3 separate regions of the Homo sapiens genome follow, and all the other regions are linked to region 3. The links come from fine-mapping of genetic effects on gene expression. A gene starts in region 3. Each other region holds a variant in brackets. All regions are shown on one strand. Distances are between the middles of the regions.

What was found. PIP is the estimated chance that this variant, and not a neighbour inherited with it, causes the effect. A credible set is the group of variants that fine-mapping cannot tell apart.
Region 1: its variant is the best candidate, but not a certain one, in a credible set for the expression of IL18RAP in whole blood (INTERVAL, PIP 0.82).
Region 2: its variant is the best candidate, but not a certain one, in a credible set for the expression of IL18RAP in whole blood (INTERVAL, PIP 0.86).

The regions. Positions count from the first base shown.
Region 1 is chr2:102,383,831-102,386,330 of GRCh38, reverse strand. IL18R1 (interleukin 18 receptor 1) reads right to left here. Exons shown (of 11, transcript NM_003855.5): 7 at 1,333-1,453. Among named protein-coding and RNA genes, the nearest start is that of IL18R1, 29 kb to the right of the region's middle. The variant G/A (reference allele first, on the strand shown) is at 1,141.
Region 2 is chr2:102,497,623-102,500,409 of GRCh38, reverse strand. All of the region lies in intron 2 of SLC9A4 (solute carrier family 9 member A4), which reads right to left. Among named protein-coding and RNA genes, the nearest start is that of SLC9A4, 26 kb to the right of the region's middle. The variant G/C (reference allele first, on the strand shown) is at 1,009.
Region 3 is chr2:102,421,650-102,424,149 of GRCh38, reverse strand. IL18RAP (interleukin 18 receptor accessory protein) reads right to left here and starts at 990. Exons shown (of 10, transcript NM_001393487.1): 1 at 803-990; 2 at 15-339. The coding sequence starts at 872.

The DNA of each region.
Region 1 (2,500 bases), 38 kb after region 3:
AAATGACTTGAGAAAGCCACTGGCAGCACGTTCTTTTTCTCTTCCTTAAAGGATTCAAGTTGTCCTGTGGTTGATGCCAGGTAAACACTTATGACATCCACTTCCCCCACCAATGACAGGCTCTGATAGCTACACCAGTCAACACAGCCAGACATGGGCCCCATGTGCCCACATTCCTAGCAACAGGGATATCTAGGACCCGGGACACAGAGCCCCACTGTAGCCTCCAACTGCCTCAAGTACATTTTGGAATGTAATTCTTTTCCTAAGTCACCCATCCAGAAATAACAACCATCTAAAACCAATGAAATCCAGAAGTAAAACACAGGAGGCCATTGAGAGGACAAAACAGATGATATCAAAGGTGTGTGCACCCAACTATAAAGAAAGACCTCTCTGCTTTTGTAGCTTAAGCTGCATTTCTAAGAAATTCACTGTGGTTTTCTACCCCTCTAAAAATTAGAAAGAGATTATCCAAAGGGAGAAATACAAAACTCAAATGGAGGCCAGTGGCTGAGGATGAGATATGATGGCAGGAGATCCACAAATTTCAAATGAATTCAACATGTAGTGGGCATGAACCACATGCCTGCTCCCGGGCAAGAAGCCAGACTTTGTGGTGTAAAGAGCTTGTAGACAAGTGTCAGCAAGAATGTAGAGCTGCAAGCATGGTAACAAAGAAGGTACCAAAAAATGTGTAAAAAGCAGAAGAAAAAACTCAACAAGTGCAGCAAAGGTGGTAGACAACTTAGGCTCAGCACTCACTAGACCCTGAGTAGTGTATCAGTATAATAATGAATACTTACAGTATGACCCAAAGTCATTCAGAAAAGCTTAGGTGACTATATGTTTAGACTGATTCTTTTTATAAGTTTGACCATTCCTTAATGGAAGAATATAGGCTTATTTAACTATCAATATGCATGCCATTTGGAGCCTTTTTGGCCCATTAGAAAAATAAACAACTTAACAAATTTTTCAAAATAAAAAAAAGCTTGGCCTAGGCAACTGCCCTTTTCTAAGAAGCTAAGTAAAATCCCCATCCCCATCGGATCCTGACTGACCAAGTGCTACTTTATAAGGTGATGCTAAATACCCTCAATGGCCTTCTCATGGACCTTCTTTTCCAGCTTAGATCTT[G/A]GCAATACATTTCTGCATAATGCGTCCACCTAGGGTATGGCCACTATAATTATAAAATATGTCCATTATAATTATAATTTAAACTAGCCCAAAATACACATCAGCCACCCAGTGTTTTTAATATGATGTTATATATAATATATATGATTGTTATATGGTATATATCATGACATATATATTACACATACATACATAATTCTCATTTCTTTCTCTTCATGTATATTAGGATCCGATCCATTTTCTTCCCCGAACATCCAATAAATTACATCCTCTTCATTCAGCAAAGCAGAGCAGTTGAGCCTTACGTTTTTTCCTGGTAAAAGTTGGCAACTAAAGTTCTGATTTTTGAAACTCAGGTTTCTTAAAAGTTTCAAAACAATATAATCAATGTATGTTAACCTAAAGCAAAACGTGGTGCTCCATCCCAGAAAGAGAATAAATATGCCTTGCTTTAAATAAAACAAAATATATAAAGCAGAAGAAATAGGTAGCAATTACAAGTCATCATCAAAACATGATTTGGCTTCTTTTTAAACATTTATTTTTTAATCAACTATTAAAACTTAGAGTGATCAGTGTACTTTCTTTTCGTAGCATCAGGACAATACTCTCACTGAGACTTCTAGATAAACCAAATGGATAAATCACAAAAAAATTAAATTAAGCAAACATTAAAGACATCAAAGTACAGAGAAAATAAAGAGAAATTTTTGAACTACAAGCGTACTTAAGAAGGATCCTTTCTAGGGTGAGCTAAGATAGGTGGCCATTTCATTCCATGGAAGAATTTGCTTTGGTTTGTAATTAACAGAAAGAGTCTCATAGAAACAAGAAAATCCAGTGAAGCTCTCGGCAGCTGCACAGGCTTGCAGAATTACTGCTAAGCGCTCGGACAGCGTAAAAGGATGTAAAGGCTGTATGATATCACTTGCAGTCTCATGGTAATCAGGAGAGCAAGTCTCATTAGAGAAGAGGCCTGCATCAAACACATGACTGCAGCACCCCCTCCCTCACCAGCTATCAGAGATGAAGACAGATTGGAGTGAACATACCTACATCCCAGCCACCCCAACTCAATTCTGAGTCAACTGAGATACTCAACTCTCAGGCTACCTACTTGTAAGAAAAAATAACACAAACTGTATTCACTTTAATTGTTTGATACATAAAGATCAACAACAATAAAAAGTTAAGAGACATACAAAGACACAGAAAATGTGCACCATAATCAATAGAAAAGACAGCTAATAGAAGCAGACCTACAGATGCTGAATTTAGCAGATTAAAAACTGTAACTGTTTGAAAGAAAATAGAGGAAAAGATAAACAAGTGGATGGAAATATGGTCATTTTCAACAAAG
Region 2 (2,787 bases), 76 kb before region 3:
GCTAGGTGGCTCAAATTAACAAAAATGTATCCTCTCACTGTTGTGGAGACTAAGAGTCTGGACTCGAGATGTCGGCAGTGCTACGCGCCCCCTGAAGGCGTTAGGGGAGGGCCCTTCCTTGCCTCTTATGAGCTTCTTCTGGTGACTGCCGGCAGTCCTCACCGTTCCTAGGTTTGTGAGTGCATCACTCCAGTCCCTGCCTGCGTCTTCACCTGGTCTTCTCTGTGTGTCTCCTCTGTGTCATATCACCTTCTTATAAGGACATCAGGCATTGGATTAGGGCCCACCATAGTCCAGTGCGAGCTCGCCTTCAATAAGGATAACTGTAAAGACACTGTTTCCAGTTACGATCCTATCCTGCAGTTCCAGGTGAGCATGGATTTTTGAGGGGACACTATTCCAGCCAGTACAGCTTTTATAAACAAAATGACCATACTGTGAAATTAACTTGTGTTACAGACTAGAAGTTTTCGTTATAAATCTCTCAGAGCACAAATAATTTTATTTTGAATTTTACAAGGTCTTAAACTCTGGCTTATTCCCCAAATGGTTCAATCATGTTTCTTAAGAGAGCCTAGGATGCAGGTTTTGAGTGTATAAATTAGTGCTCACTGTTCAATGTAATAAGTAACCAGTAGCCAATAAGCATGTTTAGATAAGGGAATGTGGGCAGAAGGTTATAATAGGCTTGCCTTCTTCCCTCAAAGATAAGTTTCTAGTGTATTTTCTGGGAGGAGAGGAAGCTGGGGAAGATGAAGAAGAATCAGAAAGCTTGGTGCCAATGGGTCCAAGCAAGTACACACACAACATACAGACACATGCAATAGACACACACAACAGACACACAAGCAACAGACACATGCAACAGACACACAGACACACACACATACCATGAACATTGTGAATTTCTCGTATTAGGAAAAGAATTACTTAAAAAGAGAAAGACTTGCAGAGATCTTAAACTGAATTTGGTTAAGAATATACATGAAAAAGTGTAGAAATTGTCCA[G/C]AAACAAAAGAGCAAAGGGAAACCCCCACAAAAGTCCCACAATCCCTCCTAGAGAAAACTACTACAGATATGTATTTTCTAATTCTATCTATCTATCTATCTATCTATCCATCTATATATCATCTATCCATCTGCTGTCTATCATCCATCTCTCTATCTGGGGCCATCAGAGCCCCTCAGATCTCTAACTGCAGGGATGCCCATCTGCCATTCTCAGCTAAGGCCTGAGCTTGGCAGGGACACTGAGATAGGCCCCTTCCTGGAAGGCAAAGGACTCCTTGGATACGTGTTTCAGCCTGTGGGTTCCTGATGAGCTTAATAAACTCTCTAAGAAGTGCAGCAAAGACAGTCCCATCCAGCTTCTGTCCTTCCCTCTCTCCTTCCCCTGGAATCACTCTGCACTGCGACCTGAGGGCTCTCCCATCCCCCTGGGCTTCTTCCCCATTTTCCCTCACAGGAGTTTCTTTAGTAAAACTCTTGTACATTTAATGCACTCTGAGTGTCTGATCCATGAAGGACCTGGACAACATCTATTGGTCTGTTTGTGTATCAATCACACTTTACAAAACTGCTAAAATCCTGGTCTATTTTATTTAAACAAACTGAAGCCATGCTTTAAGAAAACCTGGGCTGAGTATTTGAAAAAAAATGTGACATATGATTTTGAATGAATCCAAAAGAATCTCAGTGGTTGTGTCTTGACTCGGTGAGTTTGTTTGTCCAATTTCACTTTCTGCCACATATGGGTCTTAGAAGGCCTGAGTATTGCACTGTTGGAGTTGAGCTCACACTGAAAGGAGTGAAGCCACAGTGAGGAGTCACACACTCCCCACAATCCCAGAAAAGGAAAGTCTGAATGAGGTTAAGTGGAACCTGTTTATTTGACTCTCAAATCCAAAGGAAACTCAGAGAATATGACCGAGACTCAAAGATTTGAATATTGTTGCCACAAACTAAAACTCTTTCACATAGCTTGTTAGATTATTAGTAGCTACCCAGACTGTCCCAATGGCCTGGGAAAGTCAACTGGGCCAGCCTTGTCTCTGGACACCAGTGTGCCCTGCCAGGAAGATGCCATGGCAGTTTCAGAAGCTAAAGTAGTACATATAATTAAGAAGACTGCATTTACAATCACAATCCTTACTACTGCACGAAAAACAGTTCTTACCTTTCAAATTACCAGGCTCTGGGTAACATTATAGTTGCAAAAGATTTTCTTTGGGTTCATTTCAAGTCACAATAATGTGTGTGTGTCTTTTATACACTGAAGGGAAAAGCTCAGCCAATGCTAAATCTCAAACATGTCCACAGCCCCATGGAGAACAAGGTTAGATTTTTCCTCTTCACTCATTGTCTCAGCAAACGGTCCTTTTTGTTACCTTTAACAGATTTTCCAAGCCTTCCAACATTATAATAATTATGATCCTTTAGCTGATGCCACTGTAAAAGTTTGCAAAGCCCTTTTAACACACAGAGACTCACACAATGACTAAAAACATTAGTCCTTCGACCAGGGCTCAGCAGAGATGAAGAGTCAATTCCAAATGTGCTGACATTTTTTTTCTTGTTAACTTTATTGAGGAAAGACTTACATATGGTAAACTGCATCTAAAATGAATGAATTCTGGGCATTGTAGATACTCATAAAGCCATCGCCATAGTCAAGATATAGAAAAATCCCAAGAACCCTGAAAGGTTCCTCATTCATTTGAAGTCCATCCTTCTCTCCGACCCTGGCCCCAGGAAATCTCTAATTTATTATTGTCACAATAGATTAAT
Region 3 (2,500 bases):
TATTTGGATCATACTTAATCATCTTGGGTCTACAAATATATGACCCAGAATTATTCACCCCTGGGGTCAAAAAGTGAAGGGTACATTTGTCCTGAATGATGTGAGGATAGCTTTTCCTAATGTCCTCTAATGGATCTCCATTCGAAGGTTGTTGGTACCATTGGACATCAGATAGGTCGTTACTACCCATGAAGGGCAGGTGCTCAGGGACTTGTTTTGGTGAGAGTCGATTTCTGTGGCAGAAATGTGATTTCTGTGGCTCTGGTAAATCACAAAATAAGACAAATTCCTCTTCACTCCTTGTAGAATATGTCCAAAGGAGTTTTTTTGTGGAACAACCTGAAAATCATAATAAACAAAGCACATGGAAACACATTAGAAAATGGAATTCTAGCTTATATTTACATCTAGTACTTGATTTAACAAGAGATCTAGCTTCCTTGTGTGTCTTTCTTCTTCACTGTCTATTTTGTAGGGGAAAGGAAGTGCCTGTTCTAATTCCCTCCCAGTGGACTCCAGCATACCAGCAGCAGCCCTGGTTTCCTGGAAAAGATGGTAGAACTCTGGCTCATCCCTCGTCAGCTGATCTCACTGAACACTCAACTACAGTAACAGGGTACCTCGACAATGCTTGGTATCAGCTGAAAGCTGTTCACCCTAATAATTCTCCTCTCAGTCCCCTTTTAATAGTAGGATGGAAAGGTTTGTATTAATATATCACACTGCTGATATATCAGGTTATCCATCACTTTACACTTGACCACAGACTCACAGTGCTAACATGAAAAGTGAAAACCCCTACCTGAAATATTAAATCCTTTAATTCGCTCTCCTGCAACAAGCCAAAGAAATATCCAGCCCAAACAGAGCATTGTTCTCCCGTGTTCCTGTCATCACTCCAATAACTTCATTCCTTTGCCAGAGTAGAGTGTTTTGAGATTCAGAACTCTGCCCTGAGTATCCCCTTCATTTCTGTAAATCAAGAAATGGGAAATGAAGAAGTCAGAACCAGTGAACAAAGTGCATCTCACACAGGAAGCTTTGAAAGGGCAGGTCCTACCCAAACCGGCCTTCACTTGCCTATAACTTACGTGAGTATTTCCAATGGTGTGTAGCAACCTTTTCACTTGTGTCATTTCTTACAAATCATCTCAAGCTCCCAATATCCCTAGGCTCTATGCAGTGTGTTCTTTTAATGCCATTTTTCCCCTCATTAATCTTTTTTCTTTGATGTGCTCACCTAGCATGTGTATTTCCATGAGTAATTTGAAAAGAGTTATGTTTAACTTTTCCTGAAAAAATGACCCAAGTTGAATAAAACTGTCAGATTTTTCACGGTTAGGAAAGCTAGAGATATAGCTCCTATTTATAAAATTTGAGAATGTTTGCATATACTAGTCTATTCTATTAGAGAATAGAGGCCACCTACCTCTCCCTGCCCCACATGCAAGAGGGAAAATTGTCACTGGATGGCACCACTATCAACTCTCAAATATGAAAGGGGGAGCAGGTCCCCTCCAGAGAATCAGATCTGGGCTGTGTCCAAAGGACTTGAGTCCCCTCTCTTGATAAGGCAGTCATGGGACCTTTCAAACCACTTACTTGAAATATCTTGGGGATCCAGCTGGAGCATTCCCAGGGCAGAGGGGTGGGGAGGCATATGGCTCAGAGCAGGGTCTCAGTTTCAGCAGCTGGAGGGAGCCTGGGGCATCTGTAACAAGCCTGGATTGTTTCTGTTGCCCCATAAGGGAGGGCAGATGAACTTCCCTGAGGAACCTCAACCTTTAAAAGTAGGCCAGGGCTAATGGAAAATAAAGAATGACAAACCTAAAAGGAATGCAAGGAGCAGAGCAGAGAGACCACCTTGGCAATCCAGACAGAGAAAGCTTGGAGGAGAGACTAGACATCAGTTTCAGAAGCTGCAGAGGAGTTGGGCATGAGAAGGACTGAAAAGTGTCCACCAAAGAGTCTTGGTTTGGCCACCAAAAGCTCAGCATGTGCAGCTGGGGTGAGATAACGGAGAGCTTCAGGGTGGAGAGAGAGGAGTAGAGGGAATGTGGGAAGCGGGGAAGAACCACGCCTGCTAGAGTCTGCATGATGCAGGAAGACAGGAGGAAGTGTTTGCTCATTTCTGGAGATGAGAGGGCCTTGGGTAGGATTCCACTGCGAGGGGAATGCGTCAGCAGGTCAGTGAGGACAAATACAAGTGAGAGTGAGGAGAGGGTGCATGGACTGCTTTCTCCCAGGAAGCCAGAAGAAGTGGGGTCCCTGATACCATGGGGAGATTAATCTTGGACAAGAGGCAGGTAGAACCATGCAGGTGAAAAGGAAAGTCTGCCCAGACCACTTTGTCCAGGTGGAGCCAGAAAGTACAGGAAAGTACAGGATGCTACCACCTGGCTGCTGATGCTGACCTGGCTGTCTGCTGAGAGCAAGGCGTGTTCATGGAAGAAAGAAAGGGGGTTCTGTGCAATGCGCCTTGCAGAATGCCACGGATAGG